Homo sapiens: one gene and its partners. The protein of the gene in region 2 interacts with the protein of the main gene of each other region in a pairwise test. Each region holds a gene or a part of one and is shown on either strand. Other genes may lie near its edges.

Region 1 (5,379 bases), on a different chromosome or scaffold from region 2:
ACACAAGCAGCTTTTGCTTCATTCACTGGCAGTTATAAGCAAAGCACAGAAAAGTACAGAACAGTATAATGCCAAATGAAGAGACATTACCTCATCCAATACTATCATCTGGACATGATCAACCTTTGCTACTCCTTTCTTAATAAGATCCAGGATTCTCCCAGGGGTAGCAATCACCACGTGCACTATGCAAGATTTAGAAAACATACATTCTCATTAATTTTAATTTGAGCAAAGAGGATAAAGGTTTATAATATTACAGTCCTGAGCTGCTTAATGATAATTCTGAGAAATGCATTGCTATGTGATGGTATAGCCTACTCCATTGTATAGCTCCATTATAATCTTATGGGAACACCGACATACGTGCAGCCGTCACTGACCACAACATTGTATGCAGCACATGACTATCTTTTATTAGAAACAACTAGGCCGGGTGCAGTAGCTCATCCCTGTAATCCCAGTACTTTGGGAGGCCGAGGTGGGTGGATCACATGAGGTCAGGAGTTCGAGACCAGCCTGGCCAACACGGTGAAACCCTGTCTCTACTAAAAATACAAAAATTAGCTGGGTGTGGTGGTGGGAGCCTGTAATCCCAGCTACTCAGGAGGCTGAGGTAGGAGAATCGCTTGAACCCAGGAGGCAGACGTTGCAGTGAGCCGAGATCACACCACTGCACTCTAGCCAGAGCAACAGAGTAAGACTGTGTCTCAAATTAAAAAAAAAAAAAAAAAGAAAGAAAGAGAAGAAACACATTGTGTTATAGAGGTGGAAATAACACAAAAAGGCACAAAGATGTGTTTTAGGATAAAGACTTCCATTTCACCACAGGATGCTTAAAAAATATTTGTTTCACCTCTACATTGGGTGGGGTACAGCTTCCTAAATCACCTGCTGCTTTCAACAGTAGGCATACTTTCTTGTCTTAGGATAATTCTCAATTAATAGCAGAAGGCACACCAGACTTCTGACATAAGAGCAATGCCTCTAATCTAGAGCAGTGAGCCGAGTATTGTTAAAAGGATCAAACAAGATAATTTTTTAAAAACCTATGCAATACAAAGAATGTATCACATAATTATCATATATAATATTCTAACTAAAATCAAGATATAATTTTATATGAGTGATCTCATTCTTGCTGTTTTGTTACCTTTTTCCACTCGGCAATGTATCATGAAACCTCTTCATGAAAATGAATACAGGTCAACTTTACTCTTTAATGACTATGTAGAATCCTATTCAGATTATACCTTAACGTATTTAGTTAGCCAATCTCCTTCTAAGTTGGCCAATTTTTCGGCACGACAATACCACCCCATAGCAAACAACTTTGTACCTACAGCCCTGCATTTACCCAACTTTTTTCTTCAGGAAAGATTCTTAAAAATATACATTTATGGCCGGGCACGGTGGCTCACGCCTGTAATCCCAGCACTTTGGGAGGCTGAGGCAGGTGGATCACGAGGTCAGGAGATCGAGACCATCCTGGCTAATACGGTGAAACCCCGTCTCTACTAAAAACACAAAAATTTAGCCTGGCGTGGTAGCGGGAGCCTGTAATCCCAGCTATTCAGGAGACTGAGACAGGAGAATGGCCTGAACCTGGGAGGCGGAGATTGCAGTGAGTCAAGATTGCGCCTCTGCACTCCAGCCTGGGCAACAGAGCAAGACTCCATCTCCAAAAAAAAAAAAAATATACACACACACACACACATTATATATACATTTATAATTTTAAAATATACTCCCAAATTGCCCATGATAGAGATGTAAGTTTACACCCCCACATTTACAATGTAGCCTATTTGTCCACAAACTCACATTATCGTCTACTAATACTTTTAGCTTTACCAATTAAACAGGTAAAATTATTATAAACTTGCTGTTTTACAATTACTAATAAAGTCAAATATCGTTTTCAATTATGGTAATTTGTCTTTTTCGCTTGAATGCAGTGGTCATTTCCTTTTCTTACTGCAGTATTTCTGTTCCTTAATTCTTAAAAACAATTTTTAATAATTTACTGAAATACTTGTGACTAAAATAACAGAGAGCTACACTACCTTTTAGTAATCATTTCTTACCTGTATCATCAAGCCTCATTATGTCATCTCGTAAATTGGTTCCTCCTGTGGTTGCCATCACTTTGGCCCCTCCCATGTGTTTGCTGACCTGGATGCAAATTTGACTGACCTGTAGAGCAAGTTCTCTAGTGGGAACAATCACCATTGCTGAAACAGTATCAAGGAATATATAAGAAAATATGGGGTGAGGTGGGAGAACATGCTATACATCATTATTTACAAAATTTAAGAAGCTATAGAAATACTGCGCCTTATGATGCAGTGGCTCACACCTGTAACTGCACCTTATGATGCAGTGGCTCACGCCTGTAATCCCAGCACTCTGGGAGGCCAAGGTGGGCAGATCACCTGAGGTCAGGAGTTCGAGAGCAGCCTGACCAACATGGTGAAACCCCATCTGTACTAAAAATACAAAAATTATCCAGGCGTGGTGGCACGCACCTGTAGTCCCACCTACTCAGGAGGCTGAGGCAGGAGAATCACTTGAACCCGGAGGCAGAGGCTGCAGTGAGGCAAGATCGCGCCACTGCACTCCAGCCTGGGCGACAGAGTGAGACTCAGTCTCAAAAGAAAGAAAGAAAAAAAAAATAGCCTAGGCACGGTGGCTCACACCTACCTATAAGCCCAGCACTTTGGGAGGCCAAGGTGGGTGGATCACCTGAGGCCGGGAGTTTGAGACCAGCCTGACCCTATCTCTACTAAAAATACAAAATTAGCTGGGCGTGGGTGGCACATGCCTGTAATCCCAGCTACTTGGGAGGCTGAGGCAGAAGAATCGCTTGAACCCGAGAGGCAGAGATTGTGGTGAGCCGAGATTGTGCCACTGCACTCCAGTCCAGGCAACAAGAGCGAAACTCCGTCTCAAATAAAAAAAAAGAAAAGAAACACTGCCCCTTATAATCTAGATACCGAGATGTATTAAAAAATTGGGCTGGGCAGCACAGTGAGTAACTCATGCCTAGAATCCCAGCACTTTTGGAGGCTGAGGCAGGAGGATCGTTTGAGCTCAGGAGTTTAAGACCAGCCTGGGCAACATAGCAAGACCCCATCTCTACTAAAAAAAAAAATGAAAAAAATTAGCTGGGAATGGTGGCATGTGCCTATAGTCTCAGCTTCTGGGGAGGCTGAGGCAGGAGGATCACATCAGCCTGGGAGATTAAGACTGCATTAAGCTATGATCATGACACCACACTCCAGAATGGGTGACACAGCAAGACTCTGTCTCCCCCGCCAAAAAAATTAAGAAATAAAAATAAAAAGTTGAATCATTACACAGGACATTATGAAAACTCAAATGTACAAATCTCTTTATGAAAAGAGAACCTATTATAGTGTCCCAGATTTAGACTCTCCCTCAGCAATACTATTATATAAATATTAAACTCTTCCTCTTCTTTTTTTTGAGATGGAGTCTTGCTCTGTTGTCCAGGCTGAAGTGCAGTGGCTGCCATCTCGGCCCACTGCAACCTCTGCCTCCCAGGTTCAAGCAATTCTCCTGCCTCAGCCTACTGAGTAACCGCCACCACACCCAGCTAATTTTTTGTATTTTTAGTAGAGACGGGGATTCATCATGTTGGCCCAGCTGGTCTCAAACCCCTGACCTCAAGCAATCCTCCTGCCTTGGCCTCCCAAAGTGCTGGGATTACAGGTGTGAGTCACTGCACCTGGCCTTCTGCTGCTGCTGCTTCTTCGTTTTGAGACAGATCTCGCTCTGTTACCCAGGCTGGAGTGCAGTGACATGATCTTGGCTGACTGCAACCTCCACCTCCCAGGTTCAAGCAATTCTCCTGCCTCAGCCTCCTTGAGTAGCTGGGACTACAGGCACATGTCACCACACCCAGCTAATTTTTGTATTTTTAGTAGAGACAGGGTTTTACCATGTTAGCGAGGCTGGTCTTGAACTCCTGACCTCAGGTGATCTGCCTTGCCTCGGCCTCCCGAAGTGCTGGGATTACAGGCGTGAGCCACCACACCCAGCCAATACTGTTCTTAATTACAAACTTTCAGCATGTTGAGTTCGCAACTATTAGCTCAAAGTTTATTAACAATATTTCTAAAAGCCCCAACTACATTTGAGTCAGATTCACTGTGTAAAATACCTAGGTAGGAAACTCCTGCTACCTAGGCTCTATTTACATCATATGAAAGTGGGAAGAAAAGATAATTACAGATCACGAAAGCTAAAAATGTAAAGTTTCAGAGATGAAATCTTAATTCCATTAACTTACATTGAATATAACTATGAAAATTTTTTATTCCCCACTGCCTAGGCTCTTAAAATCCCAAAATCCACAGCCTTTAAACAGAAGTTCATGTTTCTACAAGGAATTCTGTTAACACTCATCTGCCACAAGAAATAGTTCCATAGTTTATAAGTAGCAATGTCAACTAATTTAACTTCTCATGACCTCAGCCGCCTTTTTTTTTTTTTTTTTTTTTTTGAGTTGAGAGTCTCACTCTGTCACCCAGGCTGGAGTGCAGTGGCACAATCTTGGCTCACTGCAACCTCCACCTCCTGGGTTCCAGTGACTCTCGTGCCTCAGACTTCTGAGTAGCTGGGATTACAGTTGTGCGCCACCATGCCCAGCTAATTTTTGCATTTTTAGTAGAGACAGGGTTTCGCAATGTTGGCCAGGCTGGTCTTAAATATCTGGCCTCAGGTGATCCACCCACTTTGACCTCCCAAAGTGCTGGGATTACAGGCTGTGAGGCACCGTGCCCAGCCTCAGCTTTCCTACCTATAGGGCACTAATACTTATTTTTCCTGTCTCACTGGAATGCTGTCACAAGTGTGTATCATATAAGAATACTCTTAAAACTAGAAATCTCTAAAAAGCTGGGAATCATTTTTAATAAAAAGACCATCATCAGGCTAAAAAAAGAAAAAACCTGAAAAGAAAGAATACAAATTTTAGATAATGTAAATTCTGACTAAAAAAAGAGTATCTTCTACACATGGCTCCAAGGCTGAAACTCCCATTTTTAGTTTAAAAACAAACTTTTATTCAACTAACCTTGTATATTGTCCTTCTTCAGGTCTAGCCGTTCAAGTAAGGGAATGAGGTAGGCACCGCTCTTGCCTGTTCCATTTTTTGCTCTAGCTAAGATATCCCTACCAGATAAAGCAATGGGAATGCTCTCCTCCTAAAAGAGATAAGACAATACAAAATTACTTCTGAATGTAGTACACAAGCAAATTCCTCTCTGAAATACACTGAAGGATACCTCTTTCGGTATTGCTTTAAGTGTCCTAAGTATCCTACATTTGAATTCTACATGAATAGCAGAGATC
Region 2 (4,180 bases):
ACTTGTTCATGGGGTAGAAAAAAAGGCCTTAACAAACCCCCTCCCCAAATATTAGCCAAGCACCAGTATTGCTTTCAGAATAACAGGTCAGACTGTGAAGTATCGCCATGGCAGCCATCAAGTAGTAGAGCACAATCACAGGGCGCTCTCCCCTGTTCAGGGGCTGGGGCTAACGCTACACTCAAAGCCAGTCCATCCACAGCGCTTTCTCAGCAGTATCTTCTCCAGAGCTACAATCAAACTCTGCCATGGTAATAACCCCCCACATGTCAGACTTTTGGGACTCAGGAAGGAAAACACTGCCCTGTCCAGCCTGTCATAACAAGGAAGGCCAACTGAGTCCTAGGCATGCATCAGGCTGCTGTTGCTGCTGCTGCTGCTTCTCATCAAGCCAAATCCTGTATACCATCAGAACACACACAGACTCGGCTCCCGGAAGCCTCAGGCCCTGATGCTGAACTGATCGTCACAGTCCCTCCTGTGCACACTCCTGGACGGGTCTTGCTAGTTCTCAAATGCGGGGCTTGAAGCACTGGCCCTGCCTGCCATTCCACCTGTGCGAGCAGAATGCTTTGGGGTGCCCCGGCGGCCCCTGCACACACACGCCTCACCTGAAGGGTGCGTCATATAGGGGAAATGCGCTGTTGTCGAGACTGGAATGGGCTGTAGTGCACTTTGAGCGAGGGCGGCCTGGGGACCGCCGGGTGGCTGTGTCGTCATTAGCATCATTGGCGCATGGGCAGTTGGATGAGAAGGAACCATTCCTGACTGTACATGAGCCTGAAACAGAGAGCTCTTTTACGCATACAGGCAACATCTCCGGCTTCAACAACATGTCAACTGTGTTCCTTTCACTGGGCTGGGACTCTCAGGAAAGGGCAACGGTGGGCCTCAGGGCCCAGTTCTGTTCTCTGGGGACAATCTCTAGTAGATTATCTATTGACCTGAAGACGCGCTTCACCTTTGGGCAGATCCTGCAAGGGTCAGGGAGCAGGCAACAAGTGAGCCTGGGTAGAAGTCAGGGCTGTGCTGTCCTAACCCTTGACATTTCTGATCATTGTATTCTATGTATGGGGTAAGATCTTCACAAAGATTAGACACTGGATCCAAGGGCAGCTTTCTCAACTTAATATCATACAAGATTCAATGATGCTTCAGAATCAGGCTGCCATGTGGGGCCTGAGGTAGTTTTGCAGATAACATCCCTTTCAAATAGGAAAACAGATTACATTAATAAGCAGAGACTGTCACAGTCAAGTATGTGAATTACTTGGACCTCTGTTCATTTGCCTCTCTCCCTCTGCTTCTGGTCTGCTCACCAGGCAGTGAAAAGAGACTCTTAGGCCCCCGTGACTCTCTCAGAGATATGCTGATGGAGCAGGAGGAGGAGGAGGAGTTGGAGTTTTTAATGGCTCCAGTGAGATGGAAAGGAGTAACCTGAAGTCATCTGGGCCAGCCCAGCGTCTCTGTACCAAGTTCAACCTGGTCTCACTCACTGTCAAGTTGGAAAGGTGATTTTAGTCAGCCCAAACAGCTGGATTCCAGCTCTGCAGGGGGTTGGCAGGGCCAGGAAGAGCCCTTGTTTCCTTTTTCCCACACTGTGCACTGTTCTAGACTACGATAAGCCTTGGATGAAATGCCGTTTTTACTCTCACATATTCAAACGGGCACATGGCAAATTTGAGCTTCCCTGTGTTAACCTTTTTGCCCTTTCAGCACAAAAACAGAGTGAGGTTTTAGGGATCCCTGACTTACATGTAAGTTCACATGCCTACTTAGCCACCAGCCTCTGGTAGACACCTACAGGACCCCAGCTCTTATGAAGCTGACTCCACCAAACCACGCTGGCCCACACGGACCAAACCGGCTTCCCTCCCCACTATCAAAAAGCAAATCAACTGCAGTGCGCTACACCACAGAACCTAAACTTTGCAGGGTGAGGACGCCCAAACTTCCCAGAGCTGTGGAACTCTACTTACAAGGTAGCCTTCTGAGAGATAGATCCAACTGAGTCGCATCTCTAGCCCACACCTTGCCAGAGCCTCACTGGCGCACTATTTAACAGGAAATGGAATTCATTGTGGCAGGTCTCACTTAGACCCGCCTCAGAGAGTTCTGTTATGAAAGTAGCAGAGACATCTAATACAGCCAATTCACCCGTAACAGCCCCAGGGAGGGCCTCAAGGCCAGCGTTAGAGCCCAACTTCAGTGCAGCTCCTTCTCCTCATTAAGACAATCCCCTGGGCCCTGGAGTGCAGGGACCTTTGTCAGCAGCTGATGCAGACAGCAACCACTGAGATGGCAAGCACACCTTTCACCTGTAGCAGCTTACACTGGAGGTGAGCTCCAAAGTGCTTCCAGGGCTGCTCTTAAAGAAAAATGGGACCACCTGGGTGCTTCCAGCTTCTAGTTACACTGCACCAATGTCCAAGGCCAAGCCCTCTCAAGAGTACAACTTATGGTCAAAGCAGATATATGGATAACCAGGGAAAACAATTGGAGAGATGTGTCTGGAACTCATGTGAGTAACAATCAAGTTGACAGGCCCCGGTAGTCACTTCGGAGAGCTGAGACTCTGTGAAGGCCATCATCCCTGCCTGGCTTCCAAGGTAAGTGTGTAGGGGAATATATATGTACACATATATATAGTAGTGAGGCTATATAGACATAGCAAAGCAGACACAGAAAGGAAAGAAGGACTGGGTTGCATTCCAGAGTCAAAGATATTTTTAAGGTCTCAGTTGGAAAACTAAAGGACTGACCAATCAGCACCTTCACTGATCCCATGACAAAACCACACAAACATTCCCTTAGGGCCAGATCACGTGTATTTGAGAGGGAAAGGGAGACAGGCAAATGGCATGACACACAGGGTTTCCTAGCTGGGAGAGCCTCTAGCTGCTTACTGATAACCTTCACATTCTACTTGGCCTTCACAGAAAGTTGGCTAAAGCTGGTATTACCTGAGGTACGTGGGCCATGTGGGGTGGGTTGGTATACGCCGGCTGAACGTGAGAAGGATGGATCGTAAAGACAGTCTGTTGTGCTGCTGGGAAACTATTCTGTGGCGACTGCGTGTTGGAGGCAGGTGTCATGGAGGGTGGAGTTGGCGCAAGCCCCGCGTGGTAAATGGCTGACTGCTGCTGTGGACTGGCCAGATGGAGAGCCTGGGCGGCCTGGTGCTGATGGTGCTGCAAAGCGACAGGAAAGAATTGAGAGGAAAACTTCTTTAATGAAAAGCAGCCAAGGGATACCCACAAAGCTAAGCTTTGCACACTTGGGCCTATGATGAGGGTCACTGGAAAGTACAGGAGAATGTACAGGGTGGTAAGAGCAAGGCTGGAGGTGCCTCCCATCTGGACAACTCCTTTCTAGGGTACAGAAGCCTGATTCTCAGTCTGGCAGTTAGAAACTTCTGAGCATACATACTAAAGTCAAAAAAGACTACTGCCCCAGGGAACTGATAGATATCAAAGACATCTTTAACTGCCTCCATTAGCAAACATAATTCAAGAAGCTCATAGGAAAATAACCTCATCACATAAACCTTAGAAATTAAAAAGTCCCAAGCAAATAGGAATTTGCCTTATGAACTTTATGTTAAATTTGATTTTTCATTACTGCAAGTTTCCAGAGCTTATCCAATCACCTTATTATCAACATGTATCTTAAATGTGATTTTTTTTAATTTTTTATTTTTTTGAGACAGAGTCTCGCTGTTGTCCAAGCTGGAGTGCAGTGGCGCGATCTCTGCTCACTGCAAGCTCCGCCTCCCGGGTTCACGCCATTCTCCTTCCTCAGCCTCCCGAGAAGCTGGGACTACAGGCGCCCACCACCACGCCCGGCTAATTTTTTTGTATTTTTATTAGAGACGGAGTTTCACAGTGTTCGCCAGGATGGTCTCAATCTCCTGACCTCGTGATCCACCCGCCTCGGCCTCCCAAAGTGGTGGGATTACAGGCGTGAGCCACTGCGCCCAGCCTTTAAATGTGATTCTTAAAACCACCACCCCAGGGGCACAGCTGTATCCATCTTCACGAGGGTGGACATGCCATGTGTTCTGACGATGCGATACCTGGCACCTGAAGAAAGCACTCAGATACTAGGATAAAGAAGCCACTCCATGCAGACCTCTGAGTTGCCCTTACCTGAACAGGACTGGGTGCAGGATGACTTCCAC
Region 3 (5,379 bases), on a different chromosome or scaffold from region 2:
CACACCTGAGTGCAGATCCAATTATATATTATGAGTTATTCAGTTTCTAAGGCTGTTACTCCTCTGTAAAAAGAAAGGTACCAGCTAGGCACAGTGGCTCACTCCTGAAATCCCAACACTTTGGAGAGCTGAGGTAGGAGAACTGCTTAAGCCCAGGAGTTTGAGACTAGCCTGGGCAACAGTGAGTTTTTTGTAGAGTGAGTCTCCACAAAAGCAGAAACAAAAATCAGCCAGGAATGGTGGCCTGCACTTGTGGTCCCAGCTACTTAGGAGGCTCAGGTGGGATTATCATTTCAGCCCAGGCAGTCAAGGCTGCAGTAAGTCATGATCCTACCACTGCACTCCAGCCTGGGTAACACAGGGAGACTCTTCTCTCAAAAAACAAAAAAGAAAGATATCAACATATACCTCAATACTCTCTGTATTAAATGAGACAGTTTATATAATAGTGTATTATACTAAGAAGTTAGATACTTCCTTTAAAAGAAAAAAACTGTAATTAAACCTGTAATTCACAATCATACTCCATGTGATTCTTTGCATATTTAGAAGTCTACCACATCTTTACATTTTAATCTAAGCCTTCCTCTAAAAATTATGACTATAATTGGCTTCATGTAATTTTGCACAGACAAAAAGTTATCTCATATTCAAAGGTTAAAAGATTTTAGGCGTTTCAGGTTTGCTATCCTAAAAAGAAAACTTAAGATTAATGCTAGAGAAAACAATGATTTAATCAACAATTTCTTACTATGCCATTTCTATATACATGCTTAAGCAGACAGGATTCCTAACCTTGTTCAGTCTAGACCAATCCGGAAGAAAACACAAATGCAATCATTCAACATAAACTTGTCGTCCTTTCATAAGTATAACTAAAAAGAACCAGGCCTCCTTGAAGGAACAGCTGATTCAAGAATAGGGACTGGGCCAGGAACAGTGCAAGATGAACCTGGAAAATATTTTGCCATAAGTGTTCAAGAAAGATAAAAAGATAGAGAATCTCCCATCCTTCATTTACAAATCAAAAAGAGAAAAAATAAGGCTGGGCATGGTGGCTCACACCTGTAATCCCACTTTCGGAGGCTGAGGCAGGCAGATCACTTGAGGTCAGGAGTTAGAGACCAGCCTGACGAATATGGTGAAACCCCATCACTACTAAAAATACTAAAATCAGCCGAGTACGGTAGCACACGCCTATAGTCCCAGCTACTCGGGAGGCTGAGTCAGGAGGACAGCCTGAAACCAGGAGGCGGAGGTTGCAGTGGGCAGAGATGGAGCCACTGCACTCCAGCCTGGACGATACAGTGAGACTCCGTCTCAAAAAAAAAGAGAGAGAGAGAAAAGATATTTAACTTTACAGTGGCAAAACCTAACTAATCAAAATTCATATCACAACTAAATGACATAATATGCCTAATGTGAAGCACTGAATGACACCCATAAAGCATCCTACAAAAAAAGTGTGCTCTTCAAAAATGTCAATGCAATAAAAAAAAACAAAAGATTAAGGAACAAGTGCAGATTAGAAGAGACTAGAGACATGATAGCTAAATGCAATGTGTAATTATAGATTCCATGTTGGACAAGGAAAAAAAATTACTGTTAAGACATTATTGAGATAATTTCCAAATTTTAAAAATGGATTATAGATTATATTGCATCAACATTTCCTGAATTTGATAACTGTACTACAGAATGGAAGAGAATTATTCTTAGGAAATGCCCACTAAACTATTTTAGAGAAAGAATTATACACATGTGGGCAAGTGGTGACAGCTGCTCTAGGTAAGGAGTATATAGGAGTTAGTGTACTATTATTCCAAGTTTTCTGTAAGTCTGAAATTTCAAGTGTTTTTAAAGATATGCACAACAGTTCATTGTTTCTTTTTTCATGTATTGGATCACTACAAAATAATCATTCCTACACATACCTCAGGAGCAAGGACAAACGTTTGCATGAATCTCCTCAAAGCCTGGTTGTTGTTAGAGAGAAGCCCCATCACCTGGACTACCACACCATCATTTAGCGTGGCATGAGCATCAACATGGCGAATCTTGGTGTGGCAGTTGGTGAAGTTTTGTGACATCACTTTCCTGTGGATTTCCTTAAAAAAATAATAATAATAATAATAATCAACTGAGAATGCCTTAAAATTTAAATAACCTCCAACTAAAAAAAACCTTCCAACACAACACAAAGAGAATGTGTATATTTAAATTACAGGATATGCAGACTGAATTTTGATGTTTCTTTGTATACTCTATTCCCAGTGACCGCGCTTGAGTTTTTTAAATAACTGTCCTGAATTAACACACTTTTCAAAGTTTAGAAAAGATGATCCCCATGCTAAAGCCAATTATCTTCCAACACACAAAAGCTTTAGAATATATCATACAAAATTAACAAATCTGACATCACATAAGTATTTCAACAAATATATTAATCAAATAGTAATAAAACACATCAACTTTTACTAAAAAGTTGAGAAACTGGATCTTTATCAGCAAATCTATTAAGTATGATCCACTTCAATTTTATGAGTTATTTTCTACCTGCTTAACAGCCTAAATAAGGCTTGAAATGCTTACTTTCTGTCCGTAGACTGCATCTGCTGGCTTTCCATTTGAATCCAATCCCCCATGGACATAAGAAGAGTTCTTTCCATAAAATCTGTAAAATGGGAAGATGATTTACTTGTCATCTTCAAGTATCTTAAGTTTATTTTTCACGTCTGATACTGGCAAACTTTTTTTTTTTTTTTTGCAACGGGGTCTCATTCTGTCACCCAGGCTGGAGTGCAGTGATGCAATCATAGCTCATTGCAGCTTCGATGTGCCGGGGCTATGATCTTTGATGTGCACATTTTTTTTTTTTTTTTTTTTGCTCTTGCTGACCAGGCTGGAGTGCAATGGCACCTCAGCTTCCCAAAGTAGCTGGAACTACAGTCACATGCCACCATGCCTGGCTGATTATTTTTATTTAAGTAGAGATAAGGTCAACTATGTTGCCCAGGCTGGTCTCGAACTCAAACTCAAGCAATTCTACCTGCCTTGGCCTCCCAAAGTGCTGGAATTGTAGGTGTGAGTCACCGCGCCTGGCCCTGGCAGAAACGTTTTCTTTTTCATCTTTGTATGCAATCATCTCTGTATCCCCTACATGCCACTTGATCAACATTTGCTGAATGGGAATGGATTTGGTTCCAGGTTTCAGTGTAGGATGATACTGTTGGGAAGGATCTTGTAGTTTCATGTCAAGATGGCCACCAATACATAAGTTCCTATTTTCACTCAGGAAGAAAATGTGCGGTAAGGCTGGAACAGCTATCTTCTTCATAGACTTCAAGTGTCCTTTTATTAATGTATCTGAGAATAAGCGTGAGCGGTTCCCCTTAAACACCTAGTTCATGCAAGTGGTTTTAGAAGTACTTTTTAACTATTTCTGCTGATGCAATTAAGAATGTCAAAGTCAATTCCTCATGGTTTTCACCCATCTATGTCCTCCTTTGATCCATTTTCATTAAAACAATATTCTACCAGGAAAGCAACACACCAAAATGCTCTAATCCAGGGATAACCACTATTAAGATTTGACATTTGTCTTCCAGATAAATACATTTTTTTTTTTAAGACAGAGTCTTGTGCTGTTGCTCAGGCTGGAGTGCCATGGCGCAATCTTAGCTCACTGCAACCTCCGCCTTTTTTTGTATTTTTAGTATAGAGAGAAGGCTTTGCCATATTGGCCAGGCTGGTCTTGAACTCCTGACCTCAAGTGATCCGCCCACCTCAGCCTCTCAAAGTGCTAGAATTACAGGCATAAGCCACCATGCCTGGCCTATGCTTTTTTCTTTTTGTTATGTTTTATGTCAGTTTTATTCTATGGGGTAGAAAGAAATTAACCAAATATAAAAATACAAAAAAAGGCTGGGCACGGTGGCTCACGCCTGTAATCCCAACACTTTGGGAGGCCAAGGTGGGCGGATCACCTGAAGTCGGAAGTTCGAGACCAGCCTGACCAACACAGGGAAACCGTCTCCACCAAAAACACAAAATTAGCCAGGCATGGTGGCGCATGCCTGTAATCCTAGCTACTCGGGAGACTAAGGCAGGAGAACCACTTGAACCTGGGAGACAGAGGTTGTGGTGAGCCGAGATAGCGCCACTGCACTCCAGCCTGGTCAACAAGAGCAAAACTCTGTCTCCAGAAAAAAAAAGAGCCAGGCATGGTGGTGGTGCGCACCCATAGTCCCAGCTACTCAGGAGGCTGAGGCAGGAGGATCACCGGAACCTGGGAGGCAGAGGCTGCAGTGAGCTCTCACCACTGCATTCCAGGCTCGGTGACAGAGCGAGACTCCACCTACTAAAAATAAATAAATAAATAATACACACACACACACACACACACACACACACACACACACACATATAAACTTAGCTGGGCATGGTAGTGCATGCCTGTAGTCCTAGCTATGTAGGAAGCTGAGGCAGGAGGATCACTTGAGCCCTGGAGGTCAAGGCTGTAGTAAGCTATGATCTCACCACTGCACTCCAGCCTGGGCAACAGAGTAAGACTGTCTCAAAAAAAAAGAAAGAAAGGGTAAAAACAGCTTTGAGACTTGTTTTATCACTTAATAGTCATGTGCATATGTACCTGCAAATTTTTAACCCCTCTGAGTGTATCTGCAAAATGAAGTTAACTCTCTTACAATGCCCTACCTTTCAGTAAAGATTTTTGTAATGATCAGGAGGAAATGAGAAAAAATGTTCTGGAAATTTTAAAGCCTTAAAAAAAAACCCAATTACACCTGTAATCCCAGTATTTTGGAAGGCTGAAGCAGGCGAATTGCTTGAGCCCAGGAGTTCGAGATCAGCCTGGGCAACATGGTAAAACTGTCTCTACAAAAAATTAGCTGGGCGTGGTGGATTGCACCTCAGTCCCAGCTACTCAGGAGGCTGAGGTGGGAGGATCGTCTGAGCCCAAGAGTTCAAGGCTGCAGTGAGCTGTGACCTTGCCACTGCACTCCAGCCCGGGAGACAGCTGAGACTTAACTCTCTCTCTCTCTCTCACACACACACACACATGCACACACACACACACACGAGATATATTCCATTGTCAGAGCAATGTCAAAACATTCATAAATTTTATTTTATGAATTGAAAATATTCATATTGAATACATTCATAAATTTTATTTTATACCTGATAATCATGTGGTATCCAATATGCAAGCTGGTCAAGGTGTAAGGGAAAAAATAGTTCTGGTCCAGCAAATACACATTTTGAAACTTCTATGAAATTATTCTAACAAGTCCACATAAATAGACAGTTTTGTATAAAGCGACATTGTAAGAGAAAATAATAGAAGCAATCTATAGA
Region 4 (6,015 bases), on a different chromosome or scaffold from region 2:
AAGAAGTTCACTCTTATTCATGGAGGCATCATGCTGACAGGACTGGATCCAAGGAAAATGCTAGTGACTTTCCCAACTTCATTCCCCAATCAAAGAGGACAGTTTCTGGTTTGCCACTGGTGAGTTTATTACACGACTAAAGTTCAAATAAAAAAATAAAAACCAAAATCTTGGCAGGGAAGCTAGAGCCAGAATCAGGAAAATCTGCTTCCTTGTTCCCAGACTCCCTGGCCAAGCCCAGCTCCACTAACTCATCTTGACTCGATCAAGTTCCTCATCAAGACTTGCATCTGTACCCTGGACATCTCTGCTGCTCCCACTGGAGAGTGAGTCTGGAGTCCCTGGCACTGGGGCTTTGGTGAGGGCTCCATATACACCCATGGCCTGAGGAGAGGAACAGAGAGAATACCATGAGGACACTTGACAGAGGTGCAGCCCAGCCTACCAATGGCTAAACGGGAAAAGATGGCATGGGGGCCAGTAAGTTGGTTTTCCTTTCTCCCTCTCTCAAACCTGTCTTGTAAGCTCTGGAGTTGATTTTAGGAATCTTGCAAACCATCAGAGTAAAGTGACTCTCAGAATACCAGCACAAGTATCTACCAAAAAAAGGTATCTCAAGAACTTCCATATTTGCAGGACTGAGTGGAGATGTTTCATTCTTAGATTCCATCTCTACAAAGAATGAAGGGAGGTCTAGGGCCAAGGCACTCTGAAGACCTTTATGGTATGTAAGTGTTGATGACGGTGGTGGGGTCTCAGTTTGGTCCCTGGCACCAGTGCTCTATGCTGGGTCCTCAGAGAGCTCTAACCTGAGCCACCATGCTGGTGACATCGCCAGGGTTGGAGGGCAGTAGGATAGTGTTGGAGTCCTTGGCCAGTTTGGAGAACGCGCTGACATACTGCTCGGCCACAGTCAGTGAAGCTGCTGCATCTCCATTCTGTGATCACAGGGGGATAAAAATCAGAGATCACCGATACGGAGAAGAAGGGGGGGATGGGGAATGAAGAAAGCAGTTCACAATAAAAAGGACCATGTAATCTGGCTCAACAGAGCCCACAGAGGCGGAACTCTCCTCAAGCGTAGATAAGAGAACCCCTTCCACTGTCAATTCCTGTCCCCATTCCCACCCAGGGGCCTCTCACATGTTGTGTCAGAGCTGCAGCCAGGATTCGAATAGCTTCAGCTTTAGCCTTGGCCTTCGCCAGAACTGCACTGGCCTCTCCTGCAAGAGAAGGGACAGAGCTTGCTTGACCCATGAAGTCAAAGTACCCCAAAGATCCTGCCCCAGCACCAATCTTCAAAGGCCCATGCCTTGCTCCTCCCTCAGCCTCTACCCTCTCCTGACCTGCTGCCTGATTTATCTGTTCAGCCTTTTCTGCTTCGGAGGCCAGGATCTGGGCCTGTTTCTTCCCTTCTGCCACATTGATGGCCGACTCTCGGGTCCCCTCAGACTCTAGAACTGTGGCCCGTTTCCGCCGCTCTGCCTCCACCTGGAAGCCCACAACAATCCCAATCAACAAGCCAAGGGAGACTGATACAGACATGCAACTCTACCCATCATAACAGGAGGGAAGTCTGGATCCTCCTGGTACTGGAGCACCCTGAGGCCCTTTTCCCACCCCTCCTTGGCCCCCACCTGCATCTGCATAGACTCTTTCACCCGGGGTGGCACATGGATATCCTTGATCTCATAACGGAGGCAGCGGATACCCCAGCAGTCAGCAGCTTGGTTGATGGCATCCACAATGCTGGCATTCAGGGACTCCCGTTCCTGGAAAAAGAGGTGTAAGCCCCACAGCCTCAACCTACCTATCAAGGGCCTACACTGAGAAGGGCCTGGGACTGATCTTGACCTTCAGAAAAGATTAAGAGTGTCAGGTTTGTGTCTTCAAACCCTAACTCTGGCTCAGATCTGCTTACCCGGAAGACTTTGTCCAGAGAGAGTTTGCCGAGCTCTGATCTCATGGTTGTTTGAGCTAGCTGGGTGACGGCATACTCAGGGTCCTCCACACCGTAGCTTGCCTGAGATGGACACGGATAGTGTAAGAAGCTTGGGCACAAGATTTTAGTGAAGAGGGCAACTCAAAAGGCTGGATAAAGTAGGGGACAGGTACCTTGTAAGGGTCCATGATGCGCAGGTAAAGGACTCCATCGATTTGCAGAGTTACATTGTCTGTAGAACCAGGAGAGAAAACGGGGAAAGTCAGGCCTCTAGGTCCCAACCAGTTCTTTCTACTAAGCTCTGGATCTACAGCAACCACATCCTAATAGCCTCAGAGCACCCATGTCACCCTGAACCCCTCACCGAGAGTCACAGCCGACTGCTCAGGCACGTTGATGACAATTTCCTTGAGACTCTGCACATATCGGATCCGGTCTAACACAGGGATGAGGATGTTCAAACCCTGGAAAGAGGAGTCATGGGTCCTCAGAAGGCTGGGAACTATTGGGTTGGGACCTAAGCTAGTCCTGGAGTATGTAGGGAGTCAACACATGGAACATGCCCAGAAAAGCAGCAGCTCCTACCAAGAAATAAGTCCTCAGAAGGCTGAGGTGTCACTGGTAAGAAAACCCAAGAGAACAGGAATGCAAGACTAGGCCCCTGAATGGAGGGGAGAGTCATGAGAATCGGAGCCAGCAGAATAGCCATCTCTATGCAGACTGAGAGGTAGGGCTGAGAGTGGGCAGGGGAGATTCCCAAGAATGGGGCCTGTGAGATGCATAGGAAAAGGTGGTAACATGGGGATGATGGTCAGCAGCCTGGGCCCTGTCAGGTCTGGCCTACAGAGTCGGGAGCTAACAGTGCGGGCAGGCCCAAAGGAAGTCCTCCCGACATTGCATGTCGTGAGGGATTGGTCATCTGGCTGGCCCAGGGTGGGCAGAAGAGGTTTCTCACAGGCTCCAGGATCCGGTGGAATCGGCCCATTCGCTCCACCACCCAGGCCTCCTGCTGCGGCACGAACAGTACCACGGTGTTTCGGGGCAATCCAGAGGAGGCGCGGCGCGGAGCGCGGCCAGAAGCCAGTAGAGAGCCCTGAAGGAAAGAAGAGGGTGAGCAGAGATCCCATCTGGCCAGACACGCCGCCCCTCGGTCCTGAAGGCATCTCCATAAACCACGACCCTCAGGATCCTCGGAGAATCACATGGGGACCATGACCTCTGACCCCAGTCCTCTCCAAAAGTTGGAATTTCGCTCTTTTCCAGCGGAGAACCCAGGTAATCTCTGTCCTGACCCTCTGGAAAGGTTGCCTCGCTCTCACCCTCAGCAAAAGGGCCCCAGTGCCCCGCGCCGCGCGCGCCAGCATTTCCCACCGCCGCAGCGACCTCCGGAACCAACGAGACGAGCGGAGCGGTCGCTCCCAGAAGCCTACCCGAGCCTTTCCTCTTGCAGTTCCGCTCCCCCGGATGTACTTCCGGCAGCTCCCTCCCCCGCTTCAACACTCACCCAATCAGCGTTACTTGGTCGAACGGCGCGTCAAGTTGTTCCCTGGGAAACGCAGACCTTCTAGAGAAGGGCGAAGGCTGTGGTTGTTCTGGGTTTAGCTGTTCACGCCGAAGATCCCCGGCCTGATGGCCAAAATGGAGGCTATTTTTCGCGGGCATTATCACTCAGACACCACGCACTGAATTATTCGTCCTCACCCGAGACTCAGTTTGCCCACCAGAGCGTAGTATCGCCCCCATCTGTCACCATAGCGACTAGTGGATTGGAGCTGACTCGTTGCCATGGTTGCCATAGTGATATTCTCTGGTAGTCCCGCTGTGTTGTGCCCAGGACTCCCACTGGGGACTGACCCCAATCCCGTTGCCATGGAAACTGGGCCTAATATTGCCTGGCGATTGGGCCGAGATTTTCCCCTCCCCTCTTTCCTCAAAGACACTGCAGCTCCTTCCCTGTCTTCCCAAGCAAGGTTTGTTATGCCCGGTCTTAAATACAGTCCAGCAAACAGCCTCAACGTTCAACCTTGTCTGGAGCATGTCACCTTGCCCACATCCCTAATGCTCTGGTAGTCAAGAGACCTCCGTAGTCACCTCCATTTTACATATGAGGGCACTGAAGTTCTGAGGGGCTAAAGTCATTAATAGAACCAGTATTAGAATCCTGATCTACAATTCAGAGTTCAGCTTCTACGGCTGAACTTTACCCACCAACCCCTCCGAAAGGAGAAAAACCAGGCCCCAGGAATCAGCAGGGACTAGCCTAAGACCTCATGGGCCCAGGCCTGTTGCCTCTCTGGTAGAAAGGGCTGAGTCCCAGCTCCAGGAAGGCCCTCCATCCCCCTTCACACCCTCTCCCCAACAACAACAACAACAACAAAAGTAGAGCTTAGTTCAAGTTTCCAAACAAGAATTTATTCTTTCTTTTTTAATCTTTTTTTCTAAAAAAAAGTACCAGGTACAATTTTTTCCTGTTTTTGATTTGCTTTGTTTTTTCAAGTTTCAGCAAATGCTTGTTCCCCTCAGCCCAGCCCCAGGAGTTAGGACTGAGGCTGGGTCAGAGTCTGGAGTGGGGAATGGGGTAGTTTGGAACCACATGACTGAGTTTGAGGGGTGCCCCTCACCCCAGCTGAGGTAGGTGGGTCAGAGTCTGGCCAGGTGAGAGGAGGCACCCCAGTGCTTGGCCCTGACTCTGCCCCCTGGACACCTTCTTCAGTCAGGACCCCAAAACAAGGAGACACAGGTAGGAGGAGAGGGACAACTGGAGTCTGGAGCCCTAGGTGAGGGGTGGTTAACCCCTGTGTGTGTGCATACATGCACACTCACACACACATACCACACAAAGACAAGCTTGTGCACACACACATACGCATAACTTGGCTTTCAGAGATAGGTCAGAGGGTAGGGGAAGTGAAGGGACTGGGGAAGGACAGGGGAAGCTGAGTCTTTGGCTACTGACTCAGTCCCTCTGGAATAGCCCCTCTTCCCTCAGCTGAGGGAAAGCAGTTCTCCTCCTGCCCCCACCGCATAAGCCTCTTCAACTCCTGAGGTTGGAGCAATATCTGAGAGTGGGAAGCGGGGAGGAGTGATGCCAATTATCAGGTGTGGGAGGTTACCAAGGCAATCCAATTTGAATAAATTATAAATTAAAAATAAATAAAATAACAAGTGGCCCCTGCCCAGGACAGGGAGGCAACGCTGGCATAACTTGCCTGGGAACTTGAGAAAATCTCAGGGTAGCTCCAGTTCCTCCCTACTACCTAAGCTGGCCTGGGAAACCCAAGGGAGGGGACAGGCACATGGAGTACCCGAAGTAGGGCAGGGTGTAGTAAGAATCAGAAGCTTTAAACACCCAAATAATCCATTTGGGCGTGAGCATGGTGAGGGCTTTAATTCAAGCCTGAAGGGTCTCTTGCTGTCTCTCCATATATGTTCTCTAAGATGGAGCAGGATGGGCAGGTCATTAGCCCGCATGGGTTCAGAGTGCTGGCAATCAGGGCAAAGGTGAATAACGTGGATTATGAGGGGCCTCGGTCACAGCCTGCAGTTCGTAGGGGAGCCCTGTGTCCAGCTCCAGGCTCCGGCGGGAAAAAAGCAGGCGGATATCTCCATGCAGGCTTAAGCGGCCTGAGCGGGAGCTCCGGAACCTGGAGGAGGACAATGTGATCAACGTAAGAATCCAGGCTGGGTTCAGTGGCTCATGCCTGTAATTCCAGTGCTTTGGGAGACCCAGGTGGGAGGACTGCTTGAGCCCAGGAGTTGGAGACCAGCCTAAGCAACATAGCGAGACCCCATCTCTAAAAATAAATGAATACATACATATATATGTACATACATACATAAAAATTTAAAAATAAACTAAGCAAGAATCCGGACAGTATCGAAGCAAGGAGAGATCCTCTTCAGGGAGGGGATACCTGGGCCTCCCCAGCCATCCCTGGGCCCTCTCCTCACCTGAGGTGCAGCAAGTAGCAGAGGAGGCGGTGGGTGGGGTTAGCATTTCCCTCCTCACCCACAGGCACCAAAAAGAGGCGATGGCGCAGGAAGGTCATGTGGGCAGCAGGCATGTCCGAGAA

What was found. Proteins that work in one complex are often made in the same cells at the same time.
Region 1: the proteins of ATXN2 (region 2) and DDX6 interact in binary tests that used the Homo sapiens proteins (3 or more experiments, as listed by UniProt).
Region 3: the proteins of ATXN2 (region 2) and G3BP1 interact in binary tests that used the Homo sapiens proteins (3 or more experiments, as listed by UniProt).
Region 4: the proteins of ATXN2 (region 2) and STOML2 interact in binary tests that used the Homo sapiens proteins (3 or more experiments, as listed by UniProt).

The regions. Positions count from the first base shown.
Region 1 is NC_000011.10:118,763,122-118,768,500, forward strand, and holds part of DDX6 (probable ATP-dependent RNA helicase DDX6), read right to left. Parts: intron 5,232-5,379; coding exon 5,102-5,231; intron 2,235-5,101; coding exon 2,088-2,234; intron 186-2,087; coding exon 91-185; intron 1-90.
Region 2 is NC_000012.12:111,453,066-111,457,245, forward strand, and holds part of ATXN2 (ataxin-2), read right to left. Parts: coding exon 4,149-4,180; intron 3,192-4,148; coding exon 2,964-3,191; intron 2,055-2,963; coding exon of another isoform or gene 1,980-2,054; intron 781-1,979; coding exon 612-780; intron 1-611. UniProt on the Homo sapiens protein: Involved in EGFR trafficking, acting as negative regulator of endocytic EGFR internalization at the plasma membrane.
Region 3 is NC_000005.10:151,787,618-151,792,996, reverse strand, and holds part of G3BP1 (ras GTPase-activating protein-binding protein 1), read right to left. Parts: intron 2,675-5,379; coding exon 2,593-2,674; intron 2,109-2,592; coding exon 1,935-2,108; intron 1-1,934. UniProt on the Homo sapiens protein: Protein involved in various processes, such as stress granule formation and innate immunity. Plays an essential role in stress granule formation.
Region 4 is NC_000009.12:35,099,789-35,105,803, forward strand, and holds the start of STOML2 (stomatin-like protein 2, mitochondrial), read right to left. Parts: upstream 3,344-6,015; 5' UTR 3,307-3,343; coding exon 3,262-3,306; exon of another isoform or gene 3,036-3,261; coding exon 2,898-3,035; exon of another isoform or gene 2,407-2,897; coding exon 2,307-2,406; exon of another isoform or gene 2,175-2,306; coding exon 2,116-2,174; exon of another isoform or gene 2,024-2,115; coding exon 1,922-2,023; exon of another isoform or gene 1,773-1,921; coding exon 1,638-1,772; exon of another isoform or gene 1,492-1,637; coding exon 1,347-1,491; exon of another isoform or gene 1,224-1,346; coding exon 1,144-1,223; exon of another isoform or gene 939-1,143; coding exon 810-938; exon of another isoform or gene 385-809; coding exon 247-384; 3' UTR 1-246. Other genes in the region: ATOSB (atos homolog protein B), read right to left, coding at 5,433-5,586, 5,894-6,015. UniProt on the Homo sapiens protein: Mitochondrial protein that probably regulates the biogenesis and the activity of mitochondria.